2 linked regions of the Homo sapiens genome follow. The protein of the gene in region 1 purifies or fractionates together with the protein of each later gene. This does not show direct contact. Each region holds a gene or a part of one and is shown in the gene's direction. Other genes may lie near its edges. The genes, in order: TRPV5 and RPIA.

Region 1 (4,120 bases):
GCAATTCAATAATATTGATGTACCTCTTTGAAAACAATGAGAACAGAATTGAACAATGAGAACACTTGGACACAGGAAGGGGAACATCACACACCAGGACCTGTCGTGGGGTTGGGGGAGGGGGGAGGGATACATTAGGAGATATACCTAATGTAAATGACAGTTAATGGGTGCAGCACACCAACATGGCACATGTATACATATGTAACAAACCTGCATATTGTGCACATGTACCCTAGAACTTAAAGTATAATAATAAAAAAAATGAGAACATAAATACAAGCTATCATATACAGTAGTCACCTTTTATCCTCAGGGGATACATTCCAAGACGCCCCAGTGGATGCCAGGAACCTTAGATAGCACCAAACCCTGTATATACTATCTTTTTTCCTACACGTACATACATACATACATACATACATACATACATACATACATACATACATATGATGAAGTTTAATTTATACATTAGGCACAGTGAAGAGTTTAGGCCGGGCATAGTGACTCACGCCTGTAATCCCAGCACTTCAGGAGGCCGAGGCAAGCAGATCACCTGAGGTCAGGAGTTCGAGACTAGCCTGGCCAACATGGTAAAACCCTGTCTCTACTAAAAATACAAAAATTAGCCAGGCGTGGTGGTGGGCACCTGTAATCCCAGCTACTAGGGAGGCTGCGGCAGGAGAATAACTTGAACCTGGAAGGTGGATGTTGCAGTGAGCCAAGATCACACCATTGCTCTCCAGCCTGGGCAACGAAAGTGAAACTCTGTCTCAAAAAAAAAAAAAAAAGAGTTTAACAACAATAAAATGAAAATTATAATAATATAAAGTTATGTGAATGTTCTCTTTCTCTCTGTCTCTCAAAATATGTTATAGTACTGTACTCACCTATTTTCCAACTGTGGCTGACCTTAGGTAACTGAACCATCAGAGAGTGAAACTGTGGATAAGGGAAACTACTTAATATATAAAATATAATATAAAATATATAAAATAGTGCAACATTACTTATTCCTCCTGGTGTTTCATTCCTGGAAAGAGTCCCAAACATGGAATCACGATTTATTTGTCGTCTACCTTTGCTCAGTTTCTGCTGTTCAACCTCCATAATAACTCGAGGCCCCTGGGGGCTCCTCTGACCTGCGTCCCCAGGTACCAGAGCCTGCTCGGCGACGCTCCAGGAAGCTGGCCGGTCACGGTCATGAGGACTTCTCACAGAGAGGGATTGGCCTGGGAAGTGGGGGTCAGAAACCCTCCTTTGAGGTACAGGGTTGAGGACAGAGATGACCACAAGACACATAAATGGGAAGCTCTGAGAAGCAGCCCGGGGGTCTCTTGAGCCCTCTTGTGGAAGGAGGATCGGCAGTGATTGAGTACTTGTGACACATGCTTTACAGATGCTCCCGTGAGACGGCATAGCCGTTACCCCAATTTCACAGGTTAGGAACTGAGGCTCAGAAAGCTCACCTAACTGTAAGGGATAAGAGTCAGGATTTGAACCAGGCTCTGCCTGACTCTTGAGCTGGAAGTCTTTATTTCCTCCTCTCCCTCATGCAACTAACTGTGCACCTTGTTTGTGGACCCACCTTCCATCCCTTTTCTTTTTCCAAATTCCTCTGCCCCACCTCTTAGCTTCTCGGGTCTCAGCCATCCCAGCCCACAGTTAGGAACCTTCCTTCCCCTCCTCCTTTTCTTCCCCAGGGTGGTTCTGTGGCTGTGGGGCTCAGCTCTGCAAAGAGCTCCTCCCCCTCCAGGAAAAGCACTTCTCCCCAGGCAGGGCGGTCAGTCCCCTCAGCGCACCTGCATGCACACACACCACCTCACAACCACACACTGCATGCACACACATACACCACAGCCACACACTGTGCATACACGCACACCCCACAACCCACATACTGCATGCACACACACACACCTACAAGCTGCATGCTGCATACACAAGTCATACAGGAGATAAACTCAGAGTCCCAGCCCCAAATAGACCCCATCTCTTGCTCAGTTGCTGTCATCCTAGACCTGTTTCTTTCGCCACATTTCTATAATCTGCCAGTGTCTGCAAGGAGAAGACATGGGGGGTTTTCTACCTAAGGCAGAAGGGCCCGGGAGCCAACTCCAGAAACTTCTGCCCTCCTTTCTGGTCAGAGAACAAGACTGGGACCAGCACCTGGACAAGCTTCATATGCTGCAGCAGAAGAGGTAGGCTTCCTAGAACGATCCGTGGCCCTACCGCCGTGATCCTCAGACCCTCTGACCCACCTGGGCCTGCTTTCCGAATACAGCACCCTAGAAGTGTATTGTCAGTGCCAGTCACTCAGACATACCCTTTCCTTCCAGCCCACCTAATTACAGAATCCCAGCTGGCCCCTTTTAGTGGCGGTGGAGGATGTGGCTTTGGGCCACACAGGAAAATCTTGAGGGTAGACCTAAGGACAGAGGCAGAATGACAGCCAAGGGGGAGTGAAAGGACCAAAAAGGACCAGAGGGAAGAAGCCAGGTTGTGTGGGATGGGGAGGGAAGGCAGAAGCAGGCTGCTGAAGAAGGGATGCACTCCTGTGGGTGGTGGAAGCACGATAAGGAAACGCCATTCATTTGAATGAAAGTGGACTGTGTGGGAAAGGGGAGGAGCGCTTTGTTTGGTGTAACACTGGGTGCTGACCAGTGGAGGAGGGCAGCTCAGGTGACACTGGAGGGCTCTGAGTTCAGTCCATCTGCCTTTTATTGAGTCTACTGTGTGCAGAGGGGTGTTAGATCCCAATGACATAAAGATTGAATGAGACTTGTGCCTGCTCCTGGAGAGCTCTTAGTTCGGGCAGGGCTAGCACACCTGCAGGTAAATCATTTCATGGCTTAGCCCTGAGGTCCAGTCCCAGGAAGAGCAGCTGGGGCAGGGACGAATCCTGTGGGCTGCTTCTTCCTCCAAGTGTTTTGGGGCTTGCCTCCCACCCAACAGCTGCCTGAGGGGTGAGGTTGTTGAGCAGACATTAGCAGTCACAAAGGGCTCCCCTGTACTCCAGAAGATTCCTGTGCTTTGTTCAATGCCCTGCTGTCCTCATCTTCAAGTTCTTAATAATTTTGAACAAGGGGTCCTGCATTTGCAGTTTACACTGGGCCTGGTCCCAAGTACCTCTGAGCCCTCATACTGTCAAGCCCTCTGCTTCCTCATCTCCCCACCCAATACCTCCAGTGGAATCTCACCTTCCTGCTTTAGAGTGGGACCCCTGGGTCTCTGAGAAAGTGAGCTTCCAGCCCCAACTTGGACCCTCTGCAGAGGGGCAGTGGGGATAGAGGGCCAGGGAGGCAAGGACTTTGTTTGTGCAGTGGCCTCAGGATGGGGGTGAATTTGCAATCTCAGCCCTGACCACTCTAGGCTGGTCAGGGACACCAGGCTCCCTGGGACTGATTCCCTGGGTGAGACGGGGCAGGGAACTGACTCCTCACAAAGGCCCCTCCTAGGAGCACTGCCTTAACAGGTAAAACCAGGCCCCACCTTTAGATTAAAAGCTTCTTCTTTAAATGAAAACACTTTGGCTGGGCGTGGTGGCTCACACCTGTAATCCCAGCACTTTGGGAGGCCGAGATGGGTGGATCACCTGAGGTCAGGAGTTCGAGAGCAGCCTGGCCAACATGCTGAAACCCCGTCTCTACCAAAAATAAAAAAACTAGTCAGGCATGGTGGTGGGCACCTGTAGTCCCAGCTACTCGGGAGGCTGAGGCAGGAGAATCACTTGAACCCAGGAGGCGGAAGTTGCAGTGAGCCGAGATCGCACCACTGCACTCCAGTCTGGGCAATAGAGTGAGACTTCGTCTCAAAAAAAATAAATAAATAAAATAAAAACACTTTTTCGCCCTGGCTCCTGGGGCTATTGGAAGAGAGGGATTTGGAGGTGGGGACCTCAGAGGAGCCACTCATCGGCCTGTCCTTTCTGTTCTTCCCCCTACACCATGTGCTTGCCTTTGGGGCCAATACACATATGTCTAGTTGGAGAGGCTCCAGCTTTATCTCTTTCTGGGTTCAAATCTGGGTATGGTAGAAGCAAAGATTAACAGAGGTCCTGTAGAATGAGTATCTCAACCTGTTTTGCCTTGAGACACCCACATAAACAAGCTGTTTAGAC
Region 2 (3,600 bases), on another chromosome or scaffold:
CGAATGATGGACGGAAGTTCTGTGATAGAAATACAACCATGCGCAAAGTGATAGAGGAGGGGTGGGCAGGAAACCCAATTTAGATGAGGTGGTCACTTAGACTTCTTTGGGAAGGTGGTATTTCAGCTGAGTCAGAAGGGTGGATGGAGCAAGCAATGCACAGATGGCCAGGCTGGCAGGTAGAGCATTTAAAATGGTTCAAAGGTCCTCAGGCCGGGGGTAATGGGGTAAAGCAGAGACTAGGTAACATTTACTTCATGAATCTTTTGGTGTGGGTGCTGAGGAGCATGAATAAGGTGAAAGACTCCTCCTAAGGAGATACATTAAAGGTGACATATTTGCCTAGAGTAGCCTTCAACTTTGCAGACCAACAGTAGTGGGAGTCCAGACATACTGTTCTGCATGTTAGCCAGAACCTTTTGCTATGTTCTGAATTTGGCCTAAAATGAAGGATTCAAATATCATCTCAAACAACTTTTCCTCCTACAGACTAAGGTGAAGATTCAAGAGCTCACGGCCTCAGAGGGCAAAGCATAGTTAAGAAAATCTAGGTGATAACCGGCAGTTAACAGTGGCCCATACCAGTGACTTGCGCTCACGGAAGAGTTCTGAAGGCCTGGAATGCGTTTGAAGATGAGTTCATGAGCAGACAGAAAGGATTCCACTAACAGCCGAGAAACACAAAGGTCATGTGTTTTTAGGGACCTCCAAGTGGTCGGTAAGGTTGGGGTCAGCATTAGTTTCTTTGCCTGTAAAATGGGGGCAATAAGAATTCCTCGTCCCTTAACTATTCTCAACAGCAAGAAACCTTAAAGGTAGAGAAGAAAAGATAAATCTGTTTTCACAGAAAGTCCTTGTTAGTCACGAAGGATTGCAGGATCGCTGCAGGGCACACTCATATGTGCAGAACCAGTCTCCAAATGGGCGGAGCAAGGTGCAGCTCCACCTGCTTCACCACTAGGTGCAGAAGAATGTCCACGGCAGGGGGTTCTCAACTTGTGACCTTGGGTCTGCGGGGGTCTAGATGGACTTCAGCTGGCGCCGTGTCGCATGTGAGTTTCCTGGGCTGTAGTAACCCCAAAAGGGCCGCGTCGTCTACAGAAGTGCCACTACTTGGAATTCTTGTCCATGGCCACGTTCTCACTGCTGGGAGAAACAACAGGGTCAGGTCTAACACTCCTTTCTCGGATGCATGGGCGAACAGAAATATCCCTGGGCTTCACCTAGCCGTGGCCTAAGTACACTTCCCCAGGGTAAGGAGTCACCATACTGATATTCCCGCGGCTAATGGTACTTCACAGAGCGAAGTGCCGGAGCCCGTCGCCGGCGATTGCGCATTCCGTCGCGGAGAGCATTATGGGATTGGTAGTCCAGACTGAGGCGCAGATAGGGGTTCCTCGAAGCCACAGAACTACATTTCCCAGCAAGACCCGCGCAGCAGGGCACGCAGACTGTGTGCGTAAGCGACCAGATTTCCGGGGGAGCCGGGGGCGGGACTTCAGCGGAGGCCGGAGCGAGGCGTCGGGATGCAGCGCCCCGGGCCCTTCAGCACCCTCTACGGGCGGGTCTTGGCCCCGCTGCCCGGGAGGGCCGGGGGCGCGGCCTCCGGCGGAGGAGGGAACAGCTGGGACCTCCCGGGTTCCCACGTGCGGCTGCCGGGGCGTGCACAGTCTGGGACCCGTGGCGGTGCTGGCAACACAAGCACCAGCTGCGGGGACTCCAACAGCATCTGCCCGGCCCCCTCCACGATGTCCAAGGCCGAGGAGGCCAAGAAGCTGGCGGGCCGCGCGGCTGTGGAGAACCACGTGAGGGTGAGCACTTCGAAACGTGGGGCGCGGGGCGCATGTCCTTGGCGTGATGGGCTACTGTTGCGCGTTGTGGGTGCTGCCGGGGCGCGCCTAGCTCCTGGCAGGGCGGGAGCTGAGTGAGAGGGTAGAGGGTGTGCACTTTACCCGAGTTTAGACCCCTCTTCCCTGCTCCTTAAAGACCTTTTAGATGTGGAATCGGTTGGGGGCGAATCTTCTAATACTTGAGCTTTCTAAAGACTCCTTGTCCAGCTGGAACAGTTTGCAAAGTGGAGCCTGGTGCTGTCTGATGTTTGGAATGGGGGCTAGAGGCACTTGCCTTGTGGCCTCCTTATCAATAAATGGAAAATGGTGGGCTTTGGGGCTGCGGAGAGGTTTTCATTTCTCTTTACTGACCCGGAAGCCGGCGGAGAGTTGGTTTGCTAGTGCTTTGAAATTTCAGTCGAAGGAGGTTCTGGGCTTGGTGCGCGCCGGCCCCTGAGTGTACTCTTGGAGGGAAGGGAAGACCCGGGGCTTCAAACTTCCTTCTTTCCATAGGGCTGGGTGGACTAAGTCTGGAGGATGCTGGTTTATTTTTTAAGGCGGGTCTGCAGAGATGTTTAGCTGTTATTCAGTCAGGTCGTGGTCCCTACTTGTTTGTTAAGTGGCAGGTGTGGTGCTGTTAGTGGAGTTTTTTTAATCCAAGTGGTTTTGCTGTCACCAATCAAGTATCTTAATTATAATAAGGAAGCCAAGTGGAGTATGTCTGCCCTGTGGTGTAGTTTCCTTGGTCTTATTGGCTTTTTATCTCTCGTTTCTACTTATTAGAAAGTGGTATTAGAGTCTCTTTTCTTCTCCGATAATAGTTCTTTACATTTGTTAATGCTTTACAAAATTATTTTGCTTAGATGATGTTGGATGAGCTTCACCACAGCCTGTTTGAGTGGGAGTGGACAATGTGGTAACCTGTGGCTCAGCCAGTTCTGTAGAAGGGATGTTCCAGTGTGACCTTCTACTCTTTCCACTGCTACCCTGTTCTGGTGTAGCTTGTTGTAAGTCTGATTGGCAATAGGATTTTCTATGGGGATTAACAGAGATAATGTAAAATGTGTTAATTTGACCCTACCTTTGGGATTCAGTGCCTCCGTTGTAAAATTGAGACAATAAGCTGAAATTTCAAAATATCTGCATACAGTGAATAGCTAATAGATAAATGTAATCCACATGAGAATACAATTAGAAAAGCCCCATATCTAAGTTGTCCTGTTAATGAATTTACATTAATATTTGGTGGCGCATCTCCCTGACCTTTGTGTTATAGTCATGTATTTGATTAAATAAAAATCTGCAAGCCCTGACCTTAGGCTAGAGCCCCAAAACACTGGATTCTGACCACATCATTTCATGAAGTTAGGTAATTTTGGGGAGATCTACAGTGACCTTTTGGGGGCACCTGTTAAAATCATATATGCCCTTCAGGGTTTGGCTTAAAGGCCATTTCCTCCTTTCAGTTTTTCCTTAGCATCCTAAGGAGAGGAAGATTTCTCTTCCGTGATTCTGTAGCACTTCATGCCTCTTATGTGCTTTATGTTGTATCTCATGTTTTGGTCATCTGTGTGTTCGTTTCTTCCAGCCCCTTAAAGGGTAAGCTCCTGGAGGGTAGTTAACCTTCATTTAGCATTGGTCACAGTGGGTCCTGCCCAGTACATGTTTGTTCAATTGTGTGCAGTGTGGACACAAATACGAAAGTGTTGGGGTTATTGGAGGTTCTTTGTGTAGAATCTCTGGGGAGTAGGGCTTCCTGTTCTCTAGTCCA

Evidence for each region.
Region 2: the proteins of TRPV5 (region 1) and RPIA purify together in Homo sapiens (affinity purification with mass spectrometry; 2 studies listed by BioGRID and IntAct, with this or other methods). This does not show direct contact.

The regions. Positions count from the first base shown.
Region 1 is NC_000007.14:142,931,413-142,935,532, reverse strand, and holds the start of TRPV5 (transient receptor potential cation channel subfamily V member 5), read left to right. Parts: upstream 1-1,786; 5' UTR 1,787-2,073; coding exon 2,074-2,201; intron 2,202-4,120. UniProt on the Homo sapiens protein: Constitutively active calcium selective cation channel thought to be involved in Ca(2+) reabsorption in kidney and intestine. Required for normal Ca(2+) reabsorption in the kidney distal convoluted tubules.
Region 2 is NC_000002.12:88,690,173-88,693,772, forward strand, and holds the start of RPIA (ribose-5-phosphate isomerase), read left to right. Parts: upstream 1-1,500; 5' UTR 1,501-1,526; coding exon 1,527-1,811; intron 1,812-3,600. UniProt on the Homo sapiens protein: Catalyzes the reversible conversion of ribose-5-phosphate to ribulose 5-phosphate and participates in the first step of the non-oxidative branch of the pentose phosphate pathway.